Regions from separate parts of the Homo sapiens genome. Here regions 1, 2, 4, 5 and 6 are each linked to region 3. The links come from fine-mapping of genetic effects on gene expression. A gene starts in region 3. Each other region holds a variant in brackets. All regions are shown on one strand. Distances are from middle to middle.

Region 1 (5,266 bases), 260 kb after region 3:
TAGGGTTTCACCATGTTGGCCAGGCTGGTTTCCAACTTCTGACCTCAGGTGATCTTCCCACCTTGGCCTCCCAAAGTGCTGGGATTACAGGCGTGAGCCACCCCGCCCGGCCTGTTAATCCTCTTAACAGGCTTGCAGGTAAGCACTCTGATTATATAGAGCAGGGGAGTGGGAGATGTAGGCTGGTAATTTATTTTTTTTGAGACAGAGTCTCACTCTGTCACCTAGGTTGGAATGCAGTGGCCTGATCTTGGCTCACTGTAACCTCTGCCTCCCAGGTTCAAGCAGTTCTCCTGCCTCAGCCTCCCAAGTAGCTGGGATTACAGGCGTGTGCCGCCACGCCCAGCTAATTTTTGTATTTGTTTGTTTGTTTAGTAGAGATGGGGTTTCACCATATTGATCAGGCTGGTCTCCAACTCCTGACCTCAGGTGATCCACCCGCCTTGACCTCCCAAAGTGCTGGGATTAGAGATGTGAGTCATCGCGCCCAGCCTGGTAATTTAATTAATATAAGGTCATTCAATAAGTTCTGGGGACTGCCTCAACCCAGGGAGCCTGATGACAGCCCTTGCTCTTACCTATGTTGCTATAATGCTTCTTTGGATTAAACTAATCATTTTGTTGTTATTGGTAGGACACTCTGCAGTGTGCAGTGCTCATAGGAGTGTAAGGTATTGGTAAGGGAGTAAATAAGAACCTCATTTTAGAGGATCTTGAGTTTTGTCAAGCCTCAGATTGTACTTTGCACCTGAGATAAAAACAGAAAACTACCTTTAAAAACATCACTCATGGCTGGGTGCGGTTGCTCACGCCTGTGTAATCCCAGCGTTTTGGGAGGCCAAGGCGGGTGGATCACCTGAGGTCAGGAGTTCAAGACCAGCCTGGCCAACATGGTGAAACCCTGTCTCTTAAAAAATTAAAAACAAAAATAAATAAATAAAATTTAAAACATCACTCATTTACAGGAAAAACATTTAAAAATTACATTGACATTCTAATCAGAGTATAAAGCTCATAAACTTTGAAGGGAAAGTAATGTCTTTTGATTATCTTAATTTCTGCAGTTCCTAGCACCTTGTCTGGAATGCAGTCTGCACCAAATAGAAAATTATTCAGAGAATTATACTAACATTAAAAATATATATAGTAAAAATTATGAATATTGTTCAATGAATTCTTCTGTCATAAATATATTTTTCAGAAACTTTAATTGTTTAGTGACAGACTCACATAAGATACCACATGGAATACCTGATTTCTTAAATTTGGCAGACAGAGGGGAATGAATATTTTACTGAATATCTGTGAGCCAGGCACGATGCCATGATTTGTGTATTTTTTATTTCTGAATTTCATAACTGGAAATGTATTTCATATATATGTTATGTACCAAAACGTCCCAAAAAACTTACGTCACCTTTAGAAAATCATAAAAACCTCATCTTTCCTTTGGAGAGATTATCATAGCTTTTTATCTCCATTTGTGAATTACCATTTTATAGCATTATTATCTATGTTTTCTTATAGCTTTTTTTGTGTGTAAATATAAAGTATGCTTTAGTTCCAGTTGGTAGAACTAGTTGCCATGAACCAGTGGAGAAGAGCAACCAAATTTTATTTGATTATCAATAATTGGTTTTTAGCTATTTAGTCATATTTATTCTGGCTTGTTTTGACCTTTAATATTTTTCTTAGATAAATATTTCCTTGTGTATGAAATTATCACTCAAAAGATACTCAGTTATTTCCCAGATTAAACTATGACTTGTACTAAATATTTAGCTTTTTTTTTGTTTTGAGACGGAGTCTGGCTCTGTCACCAAGGCTGGAGTGCAGTGGCGCAATCTTGGCTCACTGCAAGCTCCGCCTCCTGGGTTCACACCATTCTTCTGCCTCAGCCTCCCGAGTAGCTGGGACTACGAGGCGCCTGCCACCACGCCCGGCTAATTTTTTTGTATTTTTAGTAGAGACAAGAGTTTCACCATGTTAGCCAGGATGGTCTCGATTAAATGTTTAGCTTTTAAAAGCCACTTGAGATCTCTATCTGCTAGCATAATTTAGCATCTCATTTTAGAATGCATCTGTATATTTTTTATTTTGAAAGGATATGATTTCTCTTAATCTTAATTCTCTCTCATATCCCGTACACATGTAGCATTGCTTTTTATTGAATGAATTGTCAGTTTTAATTAGGCATGTTTGAAGTATAGCAACAGCTGTTCATACTTCAGGTGGTAGTCCAGGTAAGGCTTTAAGTGTTGCATTCTCAGTAGAGATTTTAGTTCCAGTTAGTTCCCTGAGTGATAACCTAAGGCCCACAGAGAGAATAATGCTGTATGAATGAGTGTATTTTTAAGATTAGCTTTGACGGAATTTCTGACTCCATCTTAACTACACTAAGACTTCTTTGAAAAGGTGTATCCTCTTTAAAAAATAAGGGTCAGTTTGTTCCTTGTTGCTTTTATAAGAACTGGCCTTGACTCAGCTAACCTACTAATTAAACCAAATATGAAATGGACTGGTTTTGGTCAAAATTAACTCAGAGATTTTTAGTTAAATAGGTGGGATTTTATGAGAGTGCCACATCTTTTCCAGACTTGTTTTTTTTTTTTAAGCCAGTCAGTGAGTTCTTCCAAATTATATCTCATAACACTTAAGTAAATAGTCTGTAAAGGTGAAAGTGTTATATTAATTTTGTTTATAAGTTATTTTAAAAGCTGCAGTTTGTCAGTTTGCCTGTATTATTTGATAGATAACTTATTAATGTCATTTG[A/T]TTTTTTAACCCAATTTTTCTTAGCTTTGGTAGGGCACGAATATTAAATGACTTTATAAGCCCCATAACCATTGTGATTTTTTTAAACAGATATAGAAACTTTAATTTTAGAGGATAGTGAAGATGAAAATGCTTTATCAATTTTTGAGACCAATTGTCACTCAGGATCACCAAAGAAACAGTCATCATCTGCTGCTATACATAAACCCTACCTTCATTTTACAATGTGAGTGATTTATATCAACTTTCTTTGTATTTAGAGTGATTTTTGATACTTTATGATTAGAATTATGGTATATTTTTACTTATGGTTATAACTGTGAGGATATTGTTTTTCTGTTGTTTGGACACAATTCTGGAAAACTTTTACTATGTATTCTTTTTCATGTGGTAATAGTTAGTTTGTTGGTTAACTACCTAGGTGTTTTTTTCTCCAAGTAGAAGAATCTTTCCTGCTACTTTACTTTTTTTTTTTTTTTTGGGAGGCAGAGTCTCACTCTGTCACCCAGGGTAGAGTGCAGTGGCATGATCTTGGCTCACTGCAACCTCTGCCTCCTGAGTTTAAGCTATTCTCGTACCTCAGCCTCCTGAGTAGTTGGGATTACAGGTGTGCGCTACCACGCCCAGCTAATTTTTGCATTTTTAGTAGAGATGGGGTTTCACTATGTTGTCCAGGCTGGTCTCGAATCTCAGGTGCTCTTCCCGCTTTGGACTCCCGAAGTGCTGGGATTATAGGCGTATGCCACTGTACCTGGCTAAGTTTACTTTTTTTTAAAGTAATGGTGTAAATTTTTTCCCCCATGGAGGCAGAGGAAAGCTTACCCTTAGAAAGTCAACTCATGAGCCCCAACTTTATTGCTTTTTCTTTAAACTAAAATGGGCAGAAATGAAATATTTGCCATGATCTGGAATACTTTAATTTGTAATAAACTTTAGATGATCATTTAGGTCTCTAAGGCTGCTAAAGAGATTTCGATTTAGAAATTGTTCAGTAATTAAATAACTTTTTGATTTTCTAGAAACATTATACTTGCATAATTTGGATTTTATGATTTTTCAATTTACATTTACCCTTTTATTATCTGTGTTAAAGCAAGTTTTGCTGTGCACTATAATAGGTAAACACTTTTAGTGCAAATGTAATTTTAAATTAAGAGGCCAAATAGTTTTCAAATACTAACAGCATCTTTACTTGCATTTACATAATTAGCCCCATAGTTGAAGGACCATAAAGCTTCAGTCAGGTAGATCTAATAGCACTTCTATTAGAAGAGGCCGGATTGTGTGTACTTTTAATATTTTGAACAAATTTAAGTCTCCAACTTGAAGTTTTCCCATGTAGATTTTGGTGAAATGTTGATTTGATTATTTGCATTGATAACCCTTTCTTGTTTTTCATTTTTAAAAATGAGCCTAAATTACTTTCATCTCCTCTTTTTTTCTTCATATGTTCTTTAATAGCAAACTCTTTGTAAGTTTTTTTCTTCTTCTCCAGATCCTTTCTTTTATGCTCTTGGGGAAGTTTTTTTATAGGCTATTCCAGCATTTTACAGATTTGTTTTATTGATAGTTATGGGAAAGCCAATTTTTTTTTTTTTTTTTTTTTTTTTGCTTTTCACCTGGCTAGCCTGTGCGTCTGTGTCTCTCTGTCTCTCTCTCTTTCTCTCTCTCTCTCTCCCCCCTCCCTCTCTTCTTCCCTCCCTCCCTCCGTCTCCCTCTCTTCTTCCCTCCCTCCCTCCCTCTCTTCTTCCCTCCCTCCCTCTCCCTCTCTTCTTCCCTCCCTCCGTCTCTCCCTCTCCCTCTCTTCTTCCCTCCCTCCTTCTCTCTCTCTGTGTGTGTGTGTGTGTGTAATGTGTGTGTGTGTGTGTGTGTGTGTAATGTGTGTGTGTGTGTGTTTATGTGTGTTTGACAGTTATAGTTATTTGGATTTGTATTATGTAGTAGCAGAAACTAAGTAAGTATCAAAAGACGTGTTTAATTTTATAAGATAATTGTCGTCAATAAAGGAATACAGAAATAGATTTTGATATTAGAAAGTATCATGTACAGTGTTAAGTTTGACTTTTTATTGAGGACATTTCCTGCCACTGATTTAATGTGAAACATTGGTATGGCTCATTTTGTTTTAGCTTTTCTGAAAGAATTGGTTTAATTTTAGCTTCCTTTACATAAGCTTTTCTAGTTCATTCATTTGACTTTGATTAAATAATGAGACAGCTATATGCTAGAATAAGCATTTTTTAGATGTTTTAATAATAATTATTCACTTATTTCTTTATTCACCTACCCATTTGTCCAATTTTTCTTTGTTTACCCTATGCCAGGCATTGTATGAGATGCTGAAAACATAAGCATGAATAAGATATAACATAGTTCTTACTTTGGAGAAGGTCTCATGGTTGGGGGTGACAAACATTTCAATATGGCGAAAGTGCTGTGAAAGCAGAACTAATTCTGCTGGAAGTCTGGGAAGGTTTCACAGGAGAAGTAGTG
Region 2 (5,266 bases), 990 kb after region 3:
CAGTCCTCCTCTGTATTCTGATAGTTCTTGCTGTCTCTAGCCATCATCTAGCATACGCTTTTAATTAGTTTTCTTCATGCTTAATATTTTCCACTAGATTGTAAGCTCTTCAAGGCCAATGGCTCTGCCCTTTTCAATCTTTGTATGACCAGAGGCCTTCTAGCACAGAGATTTGTTTATAGTAGGTGTGAAATAAATGTGTGATATTGGCTGATTTATGAGCATGCCCTCTAATACAAGACATATGGAGTTCATTGGCTTGGTGCTTGAGTGTCACCACCCCCACACCTCCACCCTTTTCTCCAAGTTATCCTCTTGGCCTGGCCCAGCTGAAGCTGTGGAAAGTAGATAAATCATCCAGCTCCTAGGTCAGACAGCTCAGAGACAAATGAACACAGCAGGTCGTTGCCACTATAATGATGCAGTGGCTGTTCTGTTTGCCAGTTACTGGACAAACAATAGATTTCCTTCCTTCTCTTAACTTTAATTCCATTTCTCATAAGCCTGAAATTGCAGTTGCTTTTTCCAACTTCTTTTCCCCCCACCCTGCCCTAGTTCATGTCAGTGTTACCTTAACTAACATTTTTATGGCTTGAAAATCAATTCAGCACCAGATATAAAGACATTCTCTGTCTCAAGCCTTTGTTCTCAGCACTAGCCTCACACCCTCCATTGGCCCAGTGCTGTAGCTTCGAACCTGCTTCAGGGTCTCTAGTCTCTGATTCCTTTTTTTGTTTGAACTTTTGTTAGATCTGCATTGATGTTTATGAGATAGACTTTCTCTTGCTCTCCTTTCATTGATTTATTTTCAGATAACATAATCTTTGTAATTATGAAGTTGAAAAGATATTGGTTTGAACAATCCTTGTTAATCGTAAGCCTCACTTATTTTACCCTTTTCAACTTAATGATCTTGGAAGACAGAAAAGAGATTCTGGGCTTAAAGCGGGAGGTTTGGAAAAGATTTCACTGGTTCTCAATGGCCAGGTGCAGAGCCGTATTTAAGATCCTTTACCATAGAGATTCAGATTATTTTGTCAGTTCTTTCTTTAGGCCAGCTATGCTGTCTTTAAATTCAGCACCATGGATAGAGGAGATTAGGGGCAGGGATGCATGAAGCAAAACCCTGCCTGGGGAAGTTTTAGTAGCACACAAAATGATTACTTTTATTCTCAGGAATGGTCTTATGAGTTGAGAAGCCCTATACAGGACACCTTTGCTGCCCTGAATGAACACCTGAGCTGAAATAAGTTTTACTAAAAAGCATTCACATCGAAATAAAAATATTAAGATTTGAATTCCAGTATTTATGTTTCCTAGGTACATGACTTTGTGCCTGGTAAACTTTCTGAGAACCAACTTCTGCTGTACAGATATGTTTGGGAAACTACTACCCTGAGAAGATGTAGAGTGTACTTCTAAGTTGGGTTTACATTCTGGGTCTACTCTTTACTTTGGGATCTTGGACAAGTTACTTAAATTTTCTATGGCTGTTTTCTCATCTCTTAAGAAGGTGAAAGGGGTACTTTATTCAAAATGTTGATGGGAGACTTAAGTGGGATATTACATGAAAAATTCTTAGGAGAGTATATGGCATACAGTAAGTGCTACATTATCATCACTATAATTAATAAAATTACTGTAAAAATTACATGAGATAATATATGTAGAAAGTTGGACAGGGACTAGCCATGCAATAATTCTGGTTATACTTTCTTTTCTCCTCATTGATGTTTGAAATCACTCCATTCCTTTGCATTAAGCATTGACCTCAAAGACTTATAGCACCCTTGGAAGAGGATTTATTTTCTTGTACACCTGTGTATGTTTGAATTAGTTCGTCACTTACTGTGGGACAGAAAAACGTAAAAGTTCTGGGTGCTAGAGCTAGGGAGAGTGGGCCAGGAAAGAAAGGATAAAAGATTGCTATACTGTTTTCTGGTTTGTTGAAGGGGTGAGTGTAATTT[A/C]GAGAATTAAACGCTAGGAGTCCTCTTCATGATCCTATGCAAAAGGCTCACCATCCACACATCGTAGCTGCAGGCTTGTTGTGATTTGCTATATGAGACTCTAGAATCTTATTGAGAATGGAAAAGAACTCATATAATATGCATAGAAATCCAGAAGCTCTGCCTAATGGTCTTGGAAATTGTGCCTCTAAACAGGCATCCTTTTGCTTCATTCATTCATTTATATATTCACATATTGTACATTAATTAATTTATACTCAATAAGCATTTATTGATAATTTACTGTATCTAGGCATAATGTTAAGGATTATAGCAGAGAAATATGATTTAGACTAAAGGCTGCCATCAGGCATTGGGGAACACAAAACATATATGAAAATCATTAATTAAGTGAATCAATAAATATTAAGTATTTAATATTGTGTCTGGCAAATAATTGGGATTTAATATTTGTTAGATGAGTTTACTGTAAGTTTTTATTATTTATACTATCAAGTTTGATGAATTACTGTCTACATATGGGGTTTACAGGAGGAGTGAGATATTGCTCTGTTGGGGGCTGAAAGGAGATATCTTCAGAAAGGAGGTTGCATTTGAGATGGGCCTTGAGGCAGGGGTATAACTTGGTCATGGACAAATGGAAAGGAAGTGGGTCTCTAGCTGAAAGGTATGGTGTGAACCACAAGGCAGTAGGAAATCACAGGAGATTGATCATGAAAAAATACCAAGTACTTTGAAGTAGAAGAAACATTATGTACAAGTATTGAGAGATGAGACTGGGAAGGTAGGTTAGAGATTTATCTTGGTAGCTTTGAGTGCCAGGCTGCAGACTTTGGGCCTTGTGGTGTGACTGAAGGGGTATCATTCAAAGTTTTATTTATTTATTTAATTATTTATTTATTTATTTATTTATTTATTTATCACTCCAGATGAATAATCAGGTCTTGATGTGTTTTTATAATAAAAAAAAATTGACAGTAGTCAACAGTAACACCATAGTTGCTATTCTTTTTAATGAAATTGTCCTGTGAGAATTCCAGGTATACAAAATGAACCCACCTAGTCATCCAAATTTTGGATAATAATCTCTTGATTTGTGATTTTCTATTTACAGATTCAGCCATGTCTTCCTAGGATCCAGCATCCAAACCTGGACCAAAGTCCTCGGATCCTCAGCAATGGGGGTGCATCTGGTGATGGTGTTCATGCTAAATTTGTGCCAAGAGACACCTGTACTTGTGGGAGAATTAATATTTCACTTCTGTTTAGGTTTCTTTTCTGGGAGCTGCTATCACTGAATACATAAAGAAATTGAGCCTATATGATTTCAATCTTCACCTTCTGATGCTGATGAAACAGGATTCTATGCAGGTGAGTGGGCTGAGGAGCCACGAGGTTAAGGGAAGTTCTGTGGGATATGAGGGGATCCTTTACTCCATTTCCTGTTTTCCCTCCTCTTTCCTCTTTCTCTCCTCCTCTTTCCTCTCCCCTCCCCTCTTCTCCCCTCCCCTCTCCTCCTCCCCTCCCCTTTGCTCTCCTCTCCTCTGCCTTTTTGTGTTAGTCAGGGTTCTCTAGAGGGACAGAACTAATAAGATAGATGTATATATGAAAAGGAGTTTATTAAGGAGTACTGACTCACAGGATCACAAGGTGAAGTCCCACAGTAGGCCACCTGCAAGCTGAGGAGCAAGGAAGCCAGTCCAAGTCTCAAAAGTACGGAAGCTGACAATGCAGCCTTCAGTTTGTGGCCAAAGGCCTGAGAGCCCCTGGCAAACCACTGGCATAAGTCCAAGAATCCAAAAGCTGAAGAACTTGGAGTCTGATGTTTTAGGGCTGAAAGCATTCAGTGTGGGAGAAAGATGAAGCCCAGAAGACTCAGCAAGTCTGCTCTTCCATCTTCTCCTGTATGCTTTATTCTAGTCACACTGGCAGCTGATTAGATGGTGCCCAACCAGACTGAGGGTGGGTCTGCCTCTCCTAGTACACTGACTCAAATGTTAATCTCCTTTGGCATCACTCTCACAGACACACCCAGGAACAATAGTTTGAATCCTTCAATCCAATCAAGTTGACACTCAATATTAACCATAATGTCTCCCCTCCTCTCTCCTCCTCTTCTTTCCCCTCCACTCTTCTCCCTCTCTCAACATGCATATGCACTTGCACACAAGACGCATATATGCACATCATATGGAGCCTCAGGCAAGATTATATGAAAGTCAGCTTCAACCTTGATATGGTTTGGCTCTGTGTCCCCACCCAAATCTCATCTTGTAACTCCCATAATTACCACATGTTGTGGGAGAAACCCAGAGGGAGATAACTGAATCATGGGGGCAGGTCTTTCCTCTGCTATTCTCGTGATAGTGAATAGACTCATGAGATCTGATAGTTTTAAAAACTGGTTTCCCTTCACAAGCTCTCTCTCTCTTTGCCTGCTGCCATCCATGTAAGATGTGACTTGCTCCTCCTTGCCTTCTGCCTTGATTGTGAGGTCTCCCCAACCATGTGGAACTGTAAGTCCATTAAACCCCTCTCTTTTGTAAATTGCCCAGTCTTGGGTGTCTTTATCAGCAGTGTGAAAATGGACTAATACAGTAAATTGGTACTGGGAGTGGAGTGCTACTGAAAAGGTACCCCAAAATGTGGAAGTGACTTTGGAACTGGGTAACAGGCAGAGGCTGGAACAGTTTGGAGAGCTCAGAAGAAGGCAGGAAAATGCAGAAAAGTTTTGAACTTCCTAGAGACTTGTTGAATGGTTTTGACCAAAATGCTGATAATGATATGGACAATAAGGTCCAGGCTGAGGTGGACTCAGATGGAAATGAGGAACTTGTTGAAAAGTAGAACTCTTGTTATGTTTTAGCAAAAAGACTGGCAGCATTTTGCCCCTGCCCTAGAGATTTGAGGAACTTAGAACTTGAGAGAGATGATTTAAGGTATCTGGCGTAAGAAATTTCTAGACAGCAAAGCATTCGAGAGGTGACTTGGATGTTATTAAAGGCATTCAGTTTTAAAAGGGAAACGAGCATAAAAGTTCAGAAAATTTGCAGCCTGACAATACAATAAAAAAGAAAATCACATTTTCTGAGTAGAAATTGAAGCCAGCTGCAGAACTTTGCATAAGTATAACAAGGACCCAAATGTTAATCATTAAGACAATGGGAAAAATGTCTCCAGGGCATGTCAGAGACCTCTGTGGCAGCCCTTCCCATCACAGACCTGGAGGCCTAGGAGAAAAAAATGGTTTTGTGGGCTGGGCCCAGGGCTGCTGTGTCCAGTCTAGGGACTTGGTGTCC
Region 3 (5,220 bases):
GAGAATCGCTTGAACCTAGGAGGTGGAGGTTGCAGTGAACTGAGGTCAGGCCACTGCACTCCAGCCTGGGCAACAGAGTGAGACTCAGTTTCAACAACAACAACAAAAAAGAATTCTTATAGCGTGTAATCTCCAGTCCCTGCTTCCCCTTCCCAGGGTCTTTCTGGTGACCAGCTCATCCTGAAGCTATCTAGGGCCCCCACCCTAAGTCATATTAGCATAAACTCGAGTGTGCTTATAAGGGTTTGTTATTAATATAAAAAGTCACTTCTATCACATACGAAATTCCAAGGGTTTTAGGAGCTCTGCAGGAGAACAAAATATAATAAAAGATACTTATTGGCCAGGCAGAGTGGCTCATGCCTATAATTCCAGTACTTTACAGGCTGAGGTGGGAGAATTGCTTGAGTCCAGGAGTTCATGATCAGCCTGGGCAACGTAGCAAGACCGTATATCTAGTTAAAAACAAAAGAAAGAAAGAGATGTTTATTCAGCAAATAACAAAGGTTTTAGGAGTGCTATTGTAGGAACCCAGGACAAAGACCAAAAATATATATTTCTTATTACACACTGCAAGATTACATCGACCAAGGGCTCACTAAGATAAAATCTTAGGCACTTTCAACTACTAGTTTTACTGGGATACTTTAGTATACTTAGTGGTTGGTATTATTAGATTTTTTTTAAAGTTACTCCTTGCATCTTAAAAGTTCTTATTTAGCACTTACATTACACATTCCTCATCTATCTTAATCCATTCCATTTTCTTAATCCAATCAGTTTTAGTGTCGATTTTTGCAAAGTTTGTTATTTACAACTATTTCCTTTCCATCTGTCTCTGTTCTAGGATATTTATTTGGTTCAAACCTTTCCTCGATTTTGGACAGATGTGTATCCGGATGATGTGTCTCTGAATCCTTATACATCCTCAGACATGTTTTTTGCCCTAACAAGTGAATTATATCTTAATGGGGTATATTGAGTTACAGTGCTTTTCTTCTAGTCAATAGACGCTAGTCTACTCTCTTCTAGCTTCCAGATTGCAGATAGAAACTTGCTGGGCACAGTGGCTCATACTTGTAATCCTAGCACTTTGGGAGGCTGAGGCAGGAGGATTGCTTGAGTCCAGGAGTTTGAGACCAGCCTGGGCAACATAATGAGACCCCTACACTACAAAAAAGAGAGAGAGAGAAAGAGGGGGTGGGGAAGGAGGGAAGGAAGGAAGGAGGGAGGGAGGGAGAGAAGGAAGCCATTTTTTTTAACCAATTGTGAGTAACTTATTCTTTCCACACTTGTTAGAACCTGAAATTTTATAAAATATAGGCATGCATTTTTGTTCTTATGAATCCATCCTTTAGTGAATGTTTTCAATCCGTATAATCTGGTAGAATTTAGGAAAACTGTATTCTTTTATTTGGTTAACTATTGAATCTTCTTCATCCATTCCTCTTCCTCCTTCTAAAATTCCTTTTTTTTTTTTTTTTTTGAGACGGAGTCTCACTCTGTCGTCCAGGCTGGAGTGCAGTGGTGCGATCTCGGCTCACTGCAAGCTCCCCCTCCCGGGTTCACGCCATTCTCCTGCCTCAGCCTCCCGAATAGCTGGGACTACAGGCGCCCGCCACCACGCCCGGCTAATTTTTTGTATTTTTAGTAGAGACGGGGTTTCACCGTGTTAGCCAGGATGGTCTCGATCTCCTGACCTCGTGATCCGCCCGCCTTGGCCTCCCAAAGTTCTGGGATTACAGGCGTGAGCCACCGCGCCCGGCCTAAAATTCCTGTTATTCTCATAGCAGGGTCTCCTGAATTTTTCCTTAAGTCCCATCATTTTATTATTTCCATCTCTATAGGCTTTTGCTCTGTTGTGTTAAAGAAATAATTATTCAATGATACTTGTTAAAGCACATTAAGGAAGACTTTATTTAGCACCATCGCTACAGGTTTAGGGACCACTGCAATGAGTTCTTGCAGTGGAGGAGACAGGTTGGGATCAACTCTGAATGCATCACGGACAAGTGGGAATGTATAGCCAAGGAGCAGTGTAGGGGGTCAGTGGATGGAAAATTGGTAAGAGGCATCAGGGGTAAGGGGGATTCTATCTAAACTGACCTAACAGGATTCTCACTGAAGACAGGCCAGGGTGGTCGGATATCACTTGGGGGATGGTGGAGGATGAGATATTGAGGGTGATCAGATGTCAAGGATGGGAGGTTCTTACTAAAACAGGAATTTACAAGGAGTGCTACGGATATGTAGTGGGGGGAGGCCAGGGATGCTGCTAAACATCCTACGATGCACAGGACGATCTCCTACAATAACGAACTAGCTAGTCCAAAATGTCAATAGCGCCGAGATTGAGAAACCTTCATGTAGCTTACGGATACAGCTTTTACCCAATCGCCAGCATCCTTCTCCTGGGGCTGAACCTCTCCCCCAGGACTGTCAGGAGGAGGCGAGTGATAAGGATCCCAGGACTGCGTTTTGCCTTCCTTCCCCACCCCCACTCCCAACGGCTCCTTTCTCTTCTCTTAGCAGCACCCAGCTTGCCCACCCATGCTCAAGATGGGCGGGATGCCAGCCTGTTACATAAATGTGCCAAAAGCCTGGCCATGCCTGGAAAATGGACCAATCCGCCCGCCAAGAGGTTGGGTCTCGTTCCCTAGAGAGAAGGAAGTTTCCTCTCCTTGAAGTGAGAGCTAGAATCGCACTTTCTGTCAAGCTGAGAGAAAGACTCTTTTCCAGAGGCTAAAAGGACAAGAAAATCTGATTTGCTTGCTTCTAACTTTGCGTTTTAAAGGGGGAAGGAGGAAAGGAAAGAGGGGGAGGGTGGTTCTGCTTAGCCCCACCCCTCCGGCTACCCCAGGTCCAGCCGTCCATTCCGGTGGAGGCAGAGGCAGTCCTGGGGCTCTGGGGCTCGGGCTTTGTCACCGGGACCCGCAGGAGCCAGAACCACTCGGCGCCGCCTGGTGCATGGGAGGGGAGCCGGGCCAGGAGTAAGTAACTCATACGGGCGCCGGGGACCCGGGTCGGGCTGGGGGCTTCCAACTCAGAGGGAGTGTGATTTGCCTGATCCTCTTCGGCGTTGTCCTGCTCTGCCGCATCCAGCCCTGTACCGCCATCCCACTTCCCGCCGTTCCCATCTGTGTTCCGGGTGGGATCGGTCTGGAGGCGGCCGAGGACTTCCCAGGCAGGAGCTCGGGGCGGAGGCCGGGTCCGCGGCAGACCAGGGCAGCGAGGCGCTGGCCGGCAGGGGGCGCTGCGGTGCCAGCCTGAGGCTGGGCTGCTCCGCGAGGATACAGCGGCCCCTGCCCTGTCCTGTCCTGCCCTGCCCTGTCCTGTCCTGCCCTGCCCTGCCCTGTCCTGTCCTGCCCTGCCCTGCCCTGTGTCCTCAGACAATATGTTAGCCGTGCACTTTGACAAGCCGGGAGGACCGGAAAACCTCTACGTGAAGGAGGTGGCCAAGCCGAGCCCGGGGGAGGGTGAAGTCCTCCTGAAGGTGGCGGCCAGCGCCCTGAACCGGGCGGACTTAATGCAGGTACCCAGGGCTCAGCCGCGCCGGGGCGGGCGGGACTCCAGAGCCTCCCTCTCAACAGCACTCAGTGGACATTGACCAGACGTGAAGGCGTGCACCGCTCCACACCCAGCAGGCAGCTGCGCTGGGGCTTCCCAGACCTAAACCCAGGGCGCCCTCTTTGTTCATGCAAAACAAGGGGGAGTACTTGTAAAGCAGAATCCACCCCGAGCTAATCCATAGCCACTCAGGCCTCCAGATGAGGGCGGAACTAACATTGTTGTGGGGTGTGGGCACACTTACTCCCCAGGCTACCCTGTTCGCCATCTTAATTCTACAGATAAGGAAACTGAAGTTCAGTGAGGTTAAGCAGTACGCCCAAGGCCGTGACACTAGCAATCAGAAGAGCTGGGATTCAAGCTGAGGTCTTTGTGGCTCCAAAGACCTCTTAACTCTTTCCACTCTGAGAGTCCCGGAGCTGACAGCGGGCAGTACTCTTAAGAATTTTCTTCTGTCTGATGCTGATTTACTGACCTGGGCCAGCTGCATTGGTTGGGGTCATTCAGAAATGTGCATCAGAATCCCCCGGGGCACAAAAGAAACGTGATGGGGGCCCAGGCACGTGTACTTTGAAATACTCCTCAGGTGGTTCTGCCACACACTCCTGGTTAAGTCCCTCTGCTCTACAGCTTCTGAGGACTGGGGTGAGTGAGCACAGAGCCTAGCGCTTGATGCATGGGAACCATCGTCAAGGTTCCTAATCCCACTACTATTATTTCCCGTCTGGGACTCAGTTTCTCCATCTGTAAAGCAAGGGGTTCAGATGAGGTAAATAGCTAAGGACTCTACCAGTTATAACATCCACTGATCATGTGACCTCCAGTTTATTTGCATAAAACTAATGGCCTCTCCTTTTTCTTCTCCTTACTTACAAAAACCTGACTTCATTCTGAAATTTATTTTTGAAAAAAAAAAGAGGGGATCTTGGAAGGGGGGCCAGGGGTAGTGACATACAGATTTCTGATCATGCTCACCACTTAGTGCACTTCTTTCTCTGCAGAGACAAGGCCAGTATGACCCACCTCCAGGAGCCAGCAACATTTTGGGACTTGAGGCATCTGGACATGTGGCAGAGCTGGGGCCTGGCTGCCAGGGACACTGGAAGATCGGGGACACAGCCATGGCTCTGCTCCCCGGTGGGGGCCAGGCTCAGTACGTCACTGTCCCCGAAGGGCTCCTCATGCCTATCCCAGAGGGATTGACCCTGACCCAGGCTGCAGCCATCCCAGAGGCCTGGCTCACCGCCTTCCAGCTGTTACATCTTGTGGGTGAGGAGGCCTCCATGCTCACTCCACACAATGTGGCTCAACACCTTCATAAATCAGCCAACTTGAATCCCAGCAATCCCCCAGGGCACTCCCAGGCCTTCCTGTATCACCTGTATTGTCAGGTCCTCAAACCATGTTAGAAGGGTTTAATGTTGAGGCTGAGAATCATGGTTAGCAGATAGAGGGTCTGGATAACACTAGATAGGAGGCCTATGTACATGTTAACACCGGACGCCCAGCAGAAGTCCCAGCTTCTTAGAATCATACTGAGCTTCTCTCTGGGGTCCCAGTGCAACAGAAGGGACCAATTGACTCATTTATTCCTCCTCAATCCCACAGAGGCCAGTCAAGAACTCACATAAGGGAATCTAAGAAGACTTGGTC
Region 4 (5,266 bases), 21 kb after region 3:
ATGTACAAAGAGCATCAATTCTGCTTTTAATTATATCTGAGTGTTTTTTGAAAGCAGTGTAAGAGAGTAGAGTCATTTCTAAGGGTGGGAAGATAAGAAAGGAGCTACAGCTGTAATTTTCTTTTGAATGCTTTTATGAATGCATTATTAGTTTTTGTAATGCACGGTGTGCCTTTAGGTAATGTAAAAAGAATTTTCTAAAAGACTTTCTTGTAAGAGAAAAACTGAAATTAGACTTTAAAACTTAGAGTGTGATTTGTCTAAGTGGCAGGCTAGCTTGCCTCTGGTGTAGTTGTTTTAATAACAAGGAGAAATTCCTTCTATTAGCAGTCATGACCAGTCCATCATTTGGATTGATATATCTGTTAGCTGAATTTCATGACCTAAAGTTAAGACTTAAAACTTCCCTCTAATTGTTTGGAAATTCCATATCCTGTCGCAATTAAGTTACAAGAACTTGCACTCAGTGGACAAACACTGACTCCCACTCTGCACACAGTACTGTACGAAGATGCTGAGGATATAATTATGATCGGTCCTCTGTGCAAGGCATCCAAAGCTCAATTTTTCAAATGCTTTTAAGAGTGCAACAGATGACTGTGTTTATATGTGCACACACATGTGCCAGAGCTGCTTTACTTTCATCTGGGTTAAATTTTTGAGTTTCTAAGAAAAAAATTCGTAGGAATAGAGAATTCATTGACTGAAAGTCTGAAAACAACTGATGTGACCTTGATCTTATTATTGCTCTTCTGTTTAACAGCTTTAGTGGCTCTCATAGGCCAATGTCCAGACTCATTAGCATACTGCATCATGATTTTCTGCATCATCTTTTAAGAGCTCCAGTAAAATGGTTCATTTCCCAGTTTACCTGCAGAGCCTCACCTGTCCTCTCCAGGTGCTAGCCAGTATGTGTTTGCACTTTGGGGGAGTTCTTTTAGTGGGTGTCTCCTTTGACCCACCTCAGTTATAAATACTCTAGACCAATATCTTTTATATGCCCCATAGTGGGCACCTGAAATAGTCCTTGATGCCATCTTTTGTTATCTTATTGGTGTCACAGCAGAAAATATGCGTATGTCTTTTATGCAGGCTGACTTCTGAGAAATTATTGTAGGCATTTGAGTCATCAAAGAAAGCCAGGAACCAAGACATTCTGAAGGAAATACCCTCTGGCTGGTCTAGTCTCACAATAGAGGTGAGCACAGGGACTTTGGTGACTAAAATGCAAGGCAGTTCCTTTCTCTCGTTTTCTCCATCCTAAAGCACTGCTTCTTCATTAGCTCCTCCACCCTCAGCAAAGGAATACAGCCAGGATTTCTTGGAGACAAAAAAGGTAGATCATGTAGCCAAGATGACATGGCCTCATAGCATATATATGACATCATGTGACATGTATCAGTGGGTCTATGAGGAACACTAACAGTACCTGTTATCAGCCCCTCCGTCCTCAATCTTGAAACAATTCGAAGTCGTCACTGATAGAAAACCGTATTGGCTGAGTGCAGTGATTTAAACCCATAATCCCAACACTTTGGGAGGCTGAGAGAAGATAGCTTGAGGCCAGGAGTTTGAGACCAGCCTGGGCAACATAGTGAGATTCCCCCATCTCTATTTTTTAAAAATAATAAATAAATGATTAAAAAAAAAAAAGAATAACCCCAACTATGGCCAGGAGTTTTTCTCATCCTATACCAACTGAAAGAAAAATGTTTGAGGCTGGGCGTGATGGCTCACACCTGTAATGCTAGCATTTTGGGAGGCCGAGGCAGGCGGATCATAAGGTCAGGAGATTGAGACCATCCTGGCTAACATGGTGAAACTCCGTCTCTACTAAAAATACAAAAAATTAGCCAGGTGTGGTGGTGGGCACCTGTAGTCCCAGCTACTCGGGAGGCTGAGGCAGAAGAATGGTGTGAACCCGGGAGGCAGAGCTTGCAGTGAGCCGAGATCATGCCACTGCACTTCAGCCTGGGCAA[C/T]AGAGTGAGACTCCGTCTCAAAAAAAGAAAGAAAAAAAAGAAAAATGTTTGAGTATATTGCCTCAGTCTCCTATGGCCTATATATAACCTACACCAATAAGTGTGCTGATTTTAAAACCTAACTGGTGTTTCTGGTTAGTTACAATAAATGTTGATGAAATAAGCACTATATGTGGAAACAAGTTCAGAATCATACATTCTTCTCAAAAGTAATTCCTCAATGTAAGTCAGAACAAATCTAGGTGAAACTAAGCAGTGTATGTGAAAACAAGCTCAGAATCACACACTCTTTTCACAAGGAACTTCCCAATGTGAGTTAGTGTACGACTTCAAGCCCTTAACACACCTTCATTTGTTTAGACACAAAAAGTGTTCTGTATCCATCTGGGTGAGTGGAGCTCATCCCTCTGGCTGTAGTCCAAACAAAGATTGCAAGAGCACATAAGGTGCTCAAGTCCCACATCTGATTGCTAGGCTACAAGATTTGGAGCCTATATTTCTTTAGTTATGCAGAGGAGGATTCTGAGCCTGAGATGAGCGGCAGGTAATATCTACTGTGCAGGGTTGCTTAGAGGATCAATGGTAATAATTTAAAAGTATATAGCCAGGCACAGTGGCTCACACCTGTAATCCCATCACTTTGAGAGGCCAAGGCAGGTAGATCAGTTGAGGTCAGGAGTTTTGAGACCAGCCTGGCCAATATGACAAAACCCTGTCTCTACTAAAAATACAAAAATTAGCCAGGCGTGCTGGTGAGCATGACAATCGTTTGAACCCAGGAGGCGGAGGTTGCAGTGAGCCAAGATTGTGCCACTGCATTCCAGCCTGAGTGACAGAGCGAGACTCCATCTCAAATAAATAAATAAATAAATAAAATAAAAAAGTATGTAGAACAAGGCCCAGCATGTAAAATGCTCACATTGTAGCTATTATATTTATCACTCACCTAGCCACTTGGAACCCTCCTTTCTTTCCACTCTTTCCCAAGGGCACCTGGCTTGTGTGGTCCTTAGAGCACTTCCTACCTAAAATAAGGATGGACAGGAGTTTGTCAAGCACAGAGCCTTTATTTTACATTTTCTCAAAGAGGACATTGTTTAAGTGAGCAGCTAACAGAATTTATAAGAGAGAAAGTGACAGCAAAGGTAACTGGCTCAAGTCCCTCTGTGTACGGTACGCCATGTACATTTCATGTCTGAGCACCTTGTGTGTGTGGTTTAAGTGAAGGTAAGGCAGTGTAGATTGTGCGAACAAGAGATCTGTGTTCTGTCATCAGGAAAGGCTACTACATGCATCACACAAAATGCACAACCTGAAATGCTTCAATCTGCAACCGAAGTTTCCTCAAGCAAGAATTCGCATGAACACTGACGAACACATACAGAGCAACTTGGGCAGAGAGAATGGATGATGCCATGAGGCAGTGAGGTTAGCACACTGATCAAGAGCCCCAAAAGCAGGAGCCGTCCCAGTGGCAGAGCAGGCTAGGAGGGTGAGCAGCAGCCATCTCCAGCCACCTTGAGTTCCTTCCTGCCTTCACTCTAAGTTGAGCAGCTCCACGTCAAAGATGAGGGTGGCATTGGGAGGGATGACACCGGGGTGGCCCGTGGCTCCATATGCCACATCAGGGGTGCAGGTCAGCTTCGCCCTCTGCCCCAAGCTCATCTAGCAGGGATGGGGGCAGATGGGGAGAGGAGAAAGAGGACCCAGCTTGATTTAAAAGAAAAAAGTTAGATGACTATGGCATTTTCCCAAACCATCCTCAATGTTAACTCTGAAGATCTCAGATGAATTTTACATGGGATACATTGAAATCGTGCTAACAGCTTTAACAAACGCAGATTCTGCCTCAGCAGAGATGTGACTGTGGGGCAGTAACCCTCACAGAGTGGTCTCAAATTCATGCATCTGACAAACATTACTGGTTATTCAATTTGTGTATGACTGAAACACTTCCATTTGTTCATAGTTCACCCTCTTCCAAAGAATAGGCCTCTTTAGGAAAAGAGGGTGTATGAATAGCACACGTAAATACTCAAGTAGGTGACAGGGGCAGTTATTTAAAGTGGTTTAGAGACTAGAGTCACCAGCAAGGTGGCAAGGGGGACCTATTGTGGCCAACCGTGGTGGCTCACACCTGTAATCCCAGCACTTTTGGGAAGCCAAGGTGGGCAGATCACTTGAGTCCAGAAGTTCAAGACCAGCCTGGCTAATATGGCAAAACCCTGTCTCTACTAAAAAATACAAAAAGTCCGGGCGTGGTGGCTCACACCTGTAATCTCAGCACTTTGGGAGGCCGAGGCAGGTGGATCACCTGAGGTCAGGAGTTCGAGAGCAGCCTGGCAAACATGGTGAGACCCCGTCTGTACTAAAAATACAAAAATTAGCCAGGCGTGATGGTGATGGTGCACACCTGTAATCTCAGCTACTCGGGAGGCTGGGGCAGGAAAATTGCTTGAACCTGGGAGGAGGAGGTTGCAGTGAGCTGAGATTGTGCCACTGCACTCTAGCCTGGGCAACAGAGTGAGACTACGTCTCAAAATAAATAAATAAATAAAAAACAAAAAACAGGCCGGGCACGGTGGCTCGCACCACTTTGGGAGGCTGAGGCGGGCAGATCACGAGGTCAGGAGACCGAGACCATCTTGGCTAACAACGGTGAAACCCCGTCTCTACTAAAAATACAAAAAAATTAGCCGGCCGTGGTGGCGGGCGCCTGTAGTCCCAGCTACTAGGGAGGCTGAGGCAGAAGAATGGCGTGAACCCAGGACGCGGAGCTTGCAGTGAGCCAAGATTGCGCCACTGCAGTCCAGCCTTGGTGACAGAGTGATACTCTTTCTAAAAAAAAACACCAAAAACAAGACCTATCGTAAGGGAGCATCATAGGACTTCACAGACAGACCAAGAAAGAACAGCTTGAACCAGGGCTCATCACAGCAGTTGTTGAGAACCCACTCAGCATTAGTGGGACAATTGGTGAAATTTAAATCTACTTTTGAATTTTGAATAATCAAAAATTTGAATAAGTAAGTAATTTGTATCAGTGTGAATGTCCTGGTTTTGATAATTGTACTATGGTTATGCAAGAAGGGGAAGCTGGATAGAATATAGAAGAACTCTGTACTATTTCTTTAATATTTTTGTAATTCTGAAATTCTTTTCAAAAAAGCGAAAAAACGAAAAATTTTCTTGGCCTACTCCACCCCAACTCTTCCACTACCTCAGTCCCAGGCAACTGGTAGACCTCAGCTAGTTTATTTTTTTGTTTTGTTTTTTTGAGACAGTCT
Region 5 (5,266 bases), 39 kb before region 3:
CCTGTAATCCCAGCACTTTGGGAGGCCGAGGCGGGCAGATCATGAAGTCAGGAGATCGAGACCATCCTGGCTAACGTGGTGAAACCCCTCTCTACTTTTTTTTTGTAAAAATACAAAAACAAAAATTAGCCAGGTGTGGTGGCAGGCACCTGTAGTCCCAGCTACTTGGGAGGCTGAGGCAGGAGAATGGCGTGAACCGGGGAGGCAGAGTTTGCAGTGAGCTGAGATCACGCCACTGCGTTCCAGTCTGGGCGACAGAGCAAGACTCTGTCTCAAAAAAAAAAAAAAAAGTAGTGAATCTTATGGCATGTAAATTATATCTCAATAGGAAGAGTCCAACAGTAAGAATACAAACAACCCAACTTAAAATTGCCAATTTTAAAGTGGGCAAAAGATTTGAACAAACACTTTGCCAAAGAAGATAGATAAATGGCAAGTAAGACTTGAAAAGATGCTCATAATCAGTCATTAAGGAAATGCAAATTAAAACCACAATGAGATGTCACTATACATCTTTTTAAAATGTCTTGAGTTAAAAAGGCCATACAATAAATCAGTATAAATAAAACTATTCCAAATGTTGGCTAGATTATGAAACAACTGGAACTCTCACACACTACTAGTGGGAATGTAAAATAATTCAATGACTTTGGAAACTAGTTTGGCAGCTTCATAAAGTTAAATTCATTTACCATATGACCCAGTCACTCCACAACTAAATATCTACCCAAGAGAAATGAAAGCATACGTCCATACAAAGACACACACATGAATGTTCATAACAGCTTTATTTGTAATAGCCCCAAACTGGAATCAACCCAAATGTCCATAAACAGGATGAACAAATTGGGATATATCCAGATAAGGGAATAGCATTCAACCAAAAAAGGAATGAAGTATTGATACATACAACATGGGTGAGTGGCAAAATAATTATGATGAGTGAAAGAAGACAAACAGAAGGAAAAGAAATATATACTGTAAGATTCCATTTGTATACAATTTTTAAAATGCAAACTAGAGTGACAGAAAGCAAAGCAGGCTGGGCGCAGTGGCTCACACCTATAATCTCAGCACTTTGGGAGGCCGAGGCGGGCAGATCACTTGAGGTCAGGAGTTTGAGACCAGCCTGGCCAACATGGTGAAACCCCGTCTCTACTAAAAATCCAAAAAAATTAGCCAGGTGTGGTGGCGCAGGCCTGTAATCCTAGCTACTCAGGAGGCTGAGGTAGGAGGATCACTTGAACCCGGGAGGTAGAGGTTGCATTGAGCCGAGATCACGCCAGTGTTTTCCTGGCTGAGTGATAGAGCGAAAGAAAGAAAAGAAAAAGAAAAGGAAAGAGAGAGAAAGAATGAAAGAAAGAGAAAGAAAGAAAAGCAGTGGTGGGGGGATGTGAGGGAGGGATTACAACAGAATATTAAGGAAGCTTTGGGAGTACTGAATATGTCCACCATCTTGATTGTGGTGATGTTTTCGTGTGTATACATGTCAAAACTTACCAAGTTTGTACACTTTATTTGAGACAGGGTCTTATTCTGTCACCCAGGTGGGGATGCAGTGGCACAATCACAGCTCACTGCAGCCTCAAATTCCTGGGGTCAAGCAATCCTCCTGCCTCAGCCTCTCAAGCAGCTGGGACTATAGGTGTATGCTACCACACCTGGCTATTATTGTTCGTTCGTTTGTGGAGACAGGGTCTCAGTATATTGCTCTGCCTGGTCTAGATAGAACTCCTGGGCTCAAGCGACCCTCCCACCTCAGCCTCCCAACGTGCTGGGATTACAGGCATGAGGCACAGTGCCAGACACACACTTTAAATATATGCAGTTTACTGTATATCAATTACATCTTAATAAAGCTGTTTAGAAAAAAGAAACTACAATCTAAAAACAATATAACTGGCTGGGCGCAAGGGCTCACAGCTATAATCCCAGCATTTTGGAACACCACGGTAGGTGGATTGCTTGAGCTCAGGAGTTGGGGACCAGCCTAGGCGACACAGTGTAGAGATTTTTTGTATCTCTACAGAAAATACAAAAATTAGCCAGACATGGTGGCGTGCGCCTATACTTCCAGCTACTAGGGAGTGGAAGGATGGCTTGATTCCAGGAGGAAACATAGCAAGACCCTGTCTCAAATATAAATAAATAAATAAATACATCATATCAAAATTTGGGTGATGCAGCTAAGGCAGTACCTCAAGAGAAACTTATAGCTATGTTACATTTTAAAAGGTATATAATCAATGACCTATGATTCCACCTTAAGATGTTAGAAAAAAACAGCAAAGTGAATATACAAAGTTAGTAAAGTGAAGGGAATAATAAACAGAATGAAATAAAAACAAACAATAGAAAAAACAATATATTTAGCACAAGCCACTTCCTACTGCAACGATCCAAGTAAAAAAATCTCCAAATCCCACACTATTTGATATATACCTCCATAAAACAAAGGGGCTTGGGCTCCAACCATTCTTTTGAGCTCTTGAGCTTGGGAAGTGTGCCAGTTACCAGATCATCACTGTCTACATTTTTCATTGTGGTCACAAATAACAATGCCCCTGGAAAAACTAAAAATCATCTTATTTAGTATTGAACATTTCACAGTCATCTGATTTTCTCTTCTGTTTAATACCACCTGTGTCCTTGCACACACGCAAAATGGATTTTGAACAC[T/G]AACCATCCAGTTTCCCTAACAAGAGGCCTTCACTACAGACTCCAGATGACGGCTTCAGAGCCAGCCTCCTTTATAAGCAGGCGAGATGCTCTTTGAAAGAATCCCCCGTCCCTTGGAATGGATTCCCACGTCCCCCTCCAAGGCAGCCCATTCCAGCCAGTGTGGCAGCTTCAGCCTGGCCTCTCGGAGTCCCATTTGCAACACTTTTCTGACTTTGGTGGCCTCGAGTGGGAAGAACTGCAACTTTCTGGCCACAGAAACACAGGCTGAGCTGCTTAGAGAAGGCAGGGAGGGGCTTTCGGTCATACTGCGCGAGTCTTCGAGCTCTGAGCGGCTCGAAGTCCTCCCCGAGGCACGGGTGCGACGGGGATGTCGTAGGCGTCCGCACCCGCTCTCGCTCATCGCGCCCACTCCCGGCCCTTCCTCCCACCCACTAGGCCGGGCGCCTGCGGCCTCCACGCCAGCCCCGGGCCGGGGGCCTCCCGCGCAGGCGCGTCGTGCGCGGGGACCGCCCGGCCTGGCGGGGAGGTCGCCGGCCGCGACAGGCACCTCTCTGCCCTCCCAAGGCCAGCAGGCCCGCGGCCGTCCTGCTACACACTCGGGCCCGGCCCGACGACCCCGGAGCCGTCCGACTGCGGCTGGAAGGGAGCCCGCCCGCGTCTGCGGAACGCGCGAATGTTGGCGCCCACCGTCTCCCGGACGCAGCGCCGCGCGAGCACTCCGCCCCCTGCGCCGCGGGTTCCACAGCGAGTCCGCGCGGGCGGTGCCGGGGCGGCGGAGGACGGCTTCAGGCCCAAAGGGGATTGGGCGGCGGCTCTAGGTGGCGGGTCTTGGTTTGCGGAAGGGGCTGGAGTCGCTGCTTCTCGGTGACCGGCGCGTGGCCCGGCCAATCCTGCCGCCGCCACCCACCCGCAACCGCGTCCGTTGACGGTCGGGTCCTTGGTCGCCGGGTCCTTGCGGGCACCACAGAGCGGGGTGGCGTCCGCTCCCTCGAGTCCTCGGTGCCAGGGAATTCACCGCTCACCACCCCCTGCCCCGCCTTGGGTCCTGCTCGGGGACCAAACCACTGGAAGGCAGTGGCGGGAAACGGGCGCCTGTGCCGGAGGTCCTGATGAGGGGGGTCCAAGGCTTGGGGACTTGTGCGGGAAATGTGGGTTTAAGTGCCTTCAAGGTGTTTTTAGTCCATTGGGATGTTGATCAGCGTTCATAGCTGGCGCTGATGCAGGTCACCGGGAAGGGAATGTGTGGGTTTATGGCCACGCATAATCTCTTTTAGTCGTGTTTAACTTAGCAGGGTAGCTCTCCATCCTGGCTGGGTTTTGTTTTTTGTTTTTATTTTTTATTTTACAGAGTTTTTCTCAGTGTGTAATGTTTGTTTTTAAATCGCAGATAATCCTGATGTAAACCATTGACATAGCCAGAAAATCACCAGGCTGTGATTTTCCAAACTCAGCTTCATAACCTATTCTGTGTGAGCTGTGATTTTTCTATGATTCTGTTTTCCTCTTTGGGTACTGGTGGGCCCTGAATGATGGACCACCGTTTTCACCCTGTACCTTTTCAAAGTACACTTGCTGATCTTAGAACTGTCTGCAGTGTCTTAAGGACATTTGTATTCACATGCCTTTTAAAAGCTAGCCAGAGTCAATGGCTTCAACTGCACTTTCCCTTTCAGAGTTGAGGGAACATGAGCCATTTGCAGAGCTTATTGTTAGACACCCTCTTGGGAACCAAGCATGTGGACAGTGCAGCCCTCATCAAAATCCAGGAGCGGAGCTTGTGTGTAGCATCACCAGGTTTCAATGTAAGAAAAAACAAGTTTGGACCTAAGACTTGATTTACTTATTATTTCTATTCTTCCAAAAAATGAAGCAGACATGACTTTTTTTTTTTTTTGAGACGGAATTTCACTCTTGTTGCTTAGCCTGGGATGCAATGGCATGATCTCAGCTCACTGCAACCTCCGCCTCTCAAGCGATTCTTGAGCCTTAGCCTCCCGAGTAGCTGGGATTACAGGAGTGCGCTACCAGGCCCGGCTAATTTTTGTATTTTTAGTAGAGATGGTGTTTTACCATGTTGGTCAGGCTAGTCTCAAACTCCTAACCTCAGGTGATCCACCTGCCTCGGCCTCCCAAAGTGCTGGGATTACAGGCATGAGCCACCGTGCCCAGCCCAGACATGACTTTTAAATGAACTTTTTCTGTAAAGAGCTACATAAATATTTTAGGTTTCTAGGCTTAGTCTTTTTACTGTTGATATAAAGGAATACCTGAAGCTGGGTAATTTATAAAGAAAAGAGGTTTATTTGGCTCACAGTTCTACTGCCTGGAAGACTGGTCATCTGTGAAAGCCTCAGGCTGCTTCCACTCATGGCAGAGGTGAAGGGGAGCCAGCATGTGCAGAGATCACAGTGGGGGAGAGGAAGCAAGAGAGAGCAAGTGGAGAGGTGCCAGGCTCTTTCTAAGAGCCAGCTCTCCTGGAACAAATACAGTGAAAACTCACAGCTTCCCCCAGCTCGCAGGGAGGGCATCAGTCTATTCATGATCCAAATACCTCCCATTAGGCCCCACCGAAAACGCTGGGAAT
Region 6 (5,266 bases), 70 kb after region 3:
TTGCCTGGTGACAGCGGGCGACCTCCCCCATCCTGGGTGTCACATCCCGACACCCACAGGCCAACGTGACATATCCCAGCTGGCCACCTGAAGTCGGAGCTAGGGTCCCAAAGGCAGGAGGGGGCAGCCAGTCCCGCGCAAGGCTGGCGAGTGCCAATGGCATGGTCCAGGCACAGGCGGGTGGGGAGGGCGGCAGCCCTGCCCCCACAGCACACTTCAGAGTGGCCATGGCCAGCAATGGGCTTCGCCAGAGCACAGGCCCAGGAAGGGGCCCTGCTTACCGTGGCCAGGGCCTGGAACAGGCAGTAGAAAGTCGTGTACCAGAGGCCTCGCAGGCTGGTGAAGGGGGGCAGGAACCACAGGAAGAAGTAGGCCAGGGCGATGAAGGGGGTGCAGCCCAGCACCCTGCGGAAGCACAGCCGAGGTGGAGCGGCCCCCCGACCCAGACAGGGGAACACAAAGGGCCCAGCCTGGAGGAACCCCACCCCTTCTCTGCCCCTTGAGAATCCCTAGGCTGGGGCGCCCTGGGTGGGAGCCAGGAGCAGGGGAGAAGTGGCCGATGGGTCATGGAGGCAGTGGGGAATGGGCGGCCACTCCTCGTGGGAGCTCCAGCTGCACTCTCAGCGCTGCTGGTGCCCTTCCCTGTGTGGACATTGGGACACTGAGCTGTACTTCCTCCGTGAGGCCTCGCATGGCCTTCAGCCCAGCCTTCCCACACTCAGTGCCCCAGGCCAGGCCTGGGAGTCTTGGAGGCTTCATCCAGCCCCGTGCCATCTGGGGAGGGAGAGTCCCCAAGAATGTCTCTGAACTCCTTATCACTCACAGTCAGTCCCCAGTGCACCTGCGATATTATCCAGTCTTGTCTCCTAACCACCCAGTGGGTTTCTGCTAGGAAATAGGGCTGTGACAAACAGTGACCTCAGGGCCAGGACCAGGTGCCTGGATCCTAAGGACTGAGCGGTTGCTCACCAAGGCATGAGCCGTCCAGACCCTGTCCTCTGGCTCCTGTTGATGAAGAACCCAGCCACAGGGTCAGCAGCCGCCCCAGACACTTTTCCCCCAAACAGAACAAGTGACACCTGGGCGGCAGGGATCTGAAACAGACAGGGGAGGGGATAGAGAGCTGAGGCCCAGCAGCAGCAGAGAGCCCATCCAGGCCTGCTTGCCATCAAGAGGGAGGCCTGGGAACCGGGACCGGAGGGCAGAGCCACAGTGTCAAGGGCTCCTCAGCCTTCCCCAGGATGCTGATCCCGGGGCTGAGTCCAGGGGAGGGAGCTGAGTGCTGCCGCCCTGCACACTCCCATTAGTACTCATGTCAGCCACTGCGGAGAGGACTCCAGGGCCCTCATCTGGGGCTGGCTCAGAGCAAGGAGGGTGCCTCTGGGCTGACAGAGGTGGACACTGTGTTTCACAATGGAAAGGATTCACTGGTTTTTCTGACTATGTAAATAATACACTCATTAGAAAAACATTCTGGCTCAGAGCAAGGAGGGTGCCTCTGGGCTGACAGAGGTGGACACTGTGTTTCACAATGGAAAGGATGCATTGTTTTTTCTGACTATGTAAATAATACACTTATTAGAAAAACACTCAAACTATGCAGGAAAATACTAAGCAAAGCTCATCTGAAATCGCAGCATCCCAAGACAACTGCCAGAATCGTTTGGATGATCAGCCTTTCATAGGCTTCTTCATGTGTGCTTGAGATTGATCAGTTTATATAAATGGGATCATATCAGACTGTCATCTTAAACATTCGTGGATACCTCATTTTATTATTTTATTTTATTTTTTAATTGAGACAGGGCCTCGCTCTGTTGCCCAGGCTGGAGTGCAGTGGCACCATCTCGGCTCACTGCAACCACTGCCTCTTGGGCTCAGGTGATTCTCCCACCTCAGCCTCCCAAGTAGCTGAGACCACAGGCACGTTCCTCTACACCGAGCTAATTTTTGTATTTTTAAATTTTTTTTTTTTTTGTGGAGGTGGAGTTTTGCCATGTTGCCCAGGCTGGTCTTGAACACCTGAGCTTAGACGGTCCTCCCGCCTTGACCTCCCAAAGTGCTGGGTGTGTGAGCCACCATACCCGGCTGGATACCTCATTTTTTTGTTGTTGGTTTTTGTTTTGTTTTTGAGAGGGAGTCTTGCTCTGTCGCCCAGGCTGGAATGTGGTGGTGCAATCTTAGCTCACTGCAACCTCCACCTCCTGGGTTCAAGCAATTATCCTGCCTCAGCTTCCTGAGTAGCTGTGACTACAGGCGTGTGCCACCACGCCTGGCTAATTTTTGTATATTTAGTAGAAATGGGGTTCACCATATTGGTCAAGCTGGTCTTGAACTCCTGACCTCAAGTGATCCTCCCTCCTCGGCCTCGCAAAGTGCTGGGATTACAGCTGTGAGCCACCATGCTCGGCTGGATACCTCATTTTAAAAATTTGGTTTTACTTACCCTCCATTCTCCATCATTCCCTCCGGTAGCCAACATTAACGAGTTGGTGTATATCCTTCTAGAATTTTCTCCATGCTCACATTTTAAACATGGACAGATACATATGTATATATACATATCCATCCACACACACACATATGGAGCCTGTCTTTGTTTTGTTAAAATGGGATCATTTTATATACTCTTCTCTAAAACTAACTTTTCTTTTTCACCAGAGCATCATGGAAATCACTCTAAGTCAACTGGTATAGATCATTATTTTGAATGGCTGCATGATAGTCTATTTGATAGTGATGTTAGTGTAGTCTGTTGACTTCTGTGGGCCACACTGGAAGAAGAAGAATTGTCTTGGCCAGGCACGGTGGCTCACGCCTGTAATCCCAGCACTTTGGGAAGCTGTGGTGGATGGAACACCTGAGATCAGGAGTTCGAGACCAGCCTGGCCAACATGGCGAAACCCCGTCTCTACTAAAAACACAAAAATTAGCTGTAG[A/G]CTGGGCGCGGTGGTCCACGTCTATAATCCCAGCACTTTGGGAGGCTGAGGTGGGTGGATCACGAGGTCAGGAGTTCAAGACCAGCCTGGCCAGCATGGTGAAACTGTTGTCTCTACTAAAAATACAAAAAATTAGCCAGGCATGATGGCACACACCTGTAATCCCAGCTACTCTGGAGGCTGAGGCAGGAGAATTGCTAAACCCGGGAGGCAGAGGTTGCAGTGAGCCGAGATCATGCCATTGCACTCCAGCCTGGGTGACAGAGCGAGACTCCATCTCAAAAAAAAAAACAAACAACAAATTAGCCGAGTGTGGTGGTGTGCACCTGTGATCCCAGCTACTCGGGAGGCTGAGGCATGAGAATCGCTTGAACCTGGGAGGCAGAGGTTGCAGTGAGCCCCAAGATCACACCACTGCACTCCAGCCTGGGCAACAGAGTGAGACTCTGTCTCAAAAAAAAAAAAAAAAAAAGAATCGTCTTGGGCCACATATAAACACATAAAATACACTAACACTAATGATAGCTAATGAGCTAAAAAAAAAAAAAAACAAAAAAATTCATACTGTTTTAAGAAAGTTTACAAATTTGTGTGGGGCCGCATTCAAAGCCGTCCCGCCGCGGGTTGGACAGGCTTGGTCTATTATGTGGCTATGATACAGCTTACTTAGCCAACTGCTTCTATATTGTCGGGGATCTACATTGTTTCTCATTTTCCCACTACAAACAGGCTGCAGTAAACATTCTTGAGTACCTTGCCCTCATTGGCTTCTGGCTTTTTGTTGAGCTCGTGTCAGAAGTGCTGTCTACAAGGATAGTGGGAGCAGAAGCAGAGGTGGGGGTGGAAGGACCAGACCCCAAGGAAGATGCCAGCAGAGACTGGGCTACTGCCCACACTTACCTGTGCTATATCAAGCAGGAAAAGCTGCAGGTAAAAGGCTGTGGCGCTGGAGGCTATCTGGTTGGGGACCCCACCAATGCCATAGCACACCTTTGTACAGAATGAGAGGCGACCGGCTCTGCTGTCCTGGAGGAGACACAGGAACTAAGCCCTTCTCCCAACAGACACAAAACAGGTCCCCACACCCCATGACTTCAGTAAACATCCTGAGTCTCTGTGATGTCTTCAGGGCTTTTCCAGCAACCTCTCAGCCCCATTTTGCCCCCATGTCATCCTAAGAGGAAGTGAGACGAAGAGAAAAAAGATCCTAAACCCTGACCTCTAAACATTTCCAGGGGGGAAGTTCTTCTGGACATCTTACCCTGGGCTTCCTGCTGAAGCCGCCATCATTTACTGAGTCAGCACGGCCGTGTAAGCTGCAGGTCAGGAGACCTGGGCTTGAGCCTGCCTTTGTCACCTACCCCTCTATGTGACCTTGAATAAATCACATCATCTCTCTAAGCCTGTTTTCCTCATCTGTCAAATGCAACATCCCTGCCAACTTCACAAAGTTGTTTCTTCGATGAGTAAATGAGGCGATAGCTCATTTACCCATAGCCTGCCTACCCACAGCCCTCCAGGGATGCCTGGCAGGCGTCTCAGCTTAGCATGGTCTACATACAGCTCCTGATGGCCATTCCATTGTCTAATCCAGCTCCTAGCAAATGGCACCGCTGGTCCCCTCAGTGGCTCAGGCCACAAACTTAGGAGTCATCTATTCTTCTTTCCAGTTCTTGTCTATCAGTGAATGCCTCCTAAGTGGCTTCTGTGTCTGCCCTTGCTCCCTACAATCCACTCCACCCAGCAGCCAGTGCTCTTGTAATAACATAAATCGCACAGTGGCTCATCCCTATAAACCCAGCACTTTGGGAGGCCGAGGTAGGTGGATTGCTTGAGCCCAGGAGTTGAAGACCAGCCTGCCCAACATGGCAAAACCCCATCTCTACTAGAAACACAAAAATTAGCCAGGCATAGTGGCCGCCTGTAATCCCAGCTACTCAGGAGGCTGAGGCAAGAGAATTGCTTGAACCAGGGAGGCAGAGGTTGCAGTGAGCAAATATCACACCACTGCACTCCAGCCTGGGTGACAGAGACTCAGTCATAAATAAATAAATAAATAATCAGATCCCATCTCCTCTCTGATTAAAACTCTCCAATGGCTTGCTATTGCAGGGTTTTTTTGTCTGTTTTTGTGTGTGTGTGTGTGTGTGTGTGTGTGTTTTGTTTGTTTGTTTGTTTGTTTCCAGATCCATGGTATTCAGTCAATACCATTGCAGTTTGAATAAAACTCCAAGTCCTGATCATGGCTAAGGAGTCCACCCAGTCGGCCCCCTACCCACCTCACCTCAAATAGCTCTCCTTCAGCCACGCCGGGCTCCTTCCTATTC

Which allele goes with the higher level. Positions count from the first base shown, and alleles are read on the strand shown. Sizes are in standard deviations (SD) of each study's normalised expression. Not every link is listed here.
With allele C in place of A in region 2, the expression in coronary artery of the gene that starts at base 2,887 in region 3 is lower (large effect, 0.86 SD a copy in GTEx).

The links.
Region 1: its variant is fine-mapped to the expression of TP53I3 in whole blood (INTERVAL, PIP 0.93).
Region 2: its variant is fine-mapped to the expression of TP53I3 in coronary artery (GTEx, PIP 0.99).
Region 4: its variant is fine-mapped to the expression of TP53I3 in monocytes (TOPMed, PIP above 0.99). The same link has a PIP of 0.9 or more in prefrontal cortex.
Region 5: its variant is fine-mapped to the expression of TP53I3 in whole blood (TOPMed, PIP 0.99).
Region 6: its variant is fine-mapped to the expression of TP53I3 in whole blood (TOPMed, PIP above 0.99).

What each region holds. Positions count from the first base shown.
Region 1 is chr2:23,817,480-23,822,745 of GRCh38, reverse strand. ATAD2B (ATPase family AAA domain containing 2B) reads left to right here. Exons shown (of 28, transcript NM_017552.4): 17 at 2,864-2,999. Among named protein-coding and RNA genes, the nearest start is that of ATAD2B, 110 kb to the left of the region's middle. The variant A/T (reference allele first, on the strand shown) is at 2,774.
Region 2 is chr2:23,088,819-23,094,084 of GRCh38, reverse strand. LOC107985792 (a long non-coding RNA gene) reads left to right here. Exons shown (of 9, transcript NR_171639.1): 2 at 3,237-3,338. Among named protein-coding and RNA genes, the nearest start is that of KLHL29, 290 kb to the left of the region's middle. The variant A/C (reference allele first, on the strand shown) is at 1,968.
Region 3 is chr2:24,082,501-24,087,720 of GRCh38, reverse strand. TP53I3 (tumor protein p53 inducible protein 3) reads left to right here and starts at 2,887. Exons shown (of 5, transcript NM_004881.5): 1 at 2,887-3,532; 2 at 4,569-4,836. The coding sequence starts at 3,395. It also overlaps a transcript of FAM228B not described here. RefSeq lists enhancers at 2,102-2,602, 3,350-3,399, 3,550-3,649, 4,245-5,175 and a silencer at 3,160-3,339.
Region 4 is chr2:24,061,442-24,066,707 of GRCh38, reverse strand. It overlaps FKBP1B (FKBP prolyl isomerase 1B), which reads right to left. Exons shown (of 4, transcript NM_004116.5): 4 at 3,027-3,644. The coding sequence ends at 3,516. Among named protein-coding and RNA genes, the nearest start is that of SF3B6, 12 kb to the left of the region's middle. The variant C/T (reference allele first, on the strand shown) is at 1,980.
Region 5 is chr2:24,121,637-24,126,902 of GRCh38, reverse strand. PFN4 (profilin family member 4) reads left to right here and starts at 3,569. Exons shown (of 5, transcript NM_199346.3): 1 at 3,569-3,785; 2 at 4,356-4,484. The coding sequence starts at 4,368. It overlaps FAM228B (family with sequence similarity 228 member B), which reads right to left and starts at 3,434. Exons shown (of 11, transcript NM_001145710.2): 1 at 3,370-3,434; 2 at 2,443-2,573. The coding sequence starts at 2,541. RefSeq lists an enhancer at 2,683-2,932 and a silencer at 3,003-3,502. The variant T/G (reference allele first, on the strand shown) is at 2,680.
Region 6 is chr2:24,011,984-24,017,249 of GRCh38, reverse strand. It overlaps MFSD2B (MFSD2 lysolipid transporter B, sphingolipid), which reads right to left. Exons shown (of 14, transcript NM_001346880.2): 2 at 3,840-3,965; 3 at 970-1,094; 4 at 282-405. Among named protein-coding and RNA genes, the nearest start is that of MFSD2B, 4.5 kb to the right of the region's middle. RefSeq lists enhancers at 68-623, 624-1,179. The variant A/G (reference allele first, on the strand shown) is at 2,940.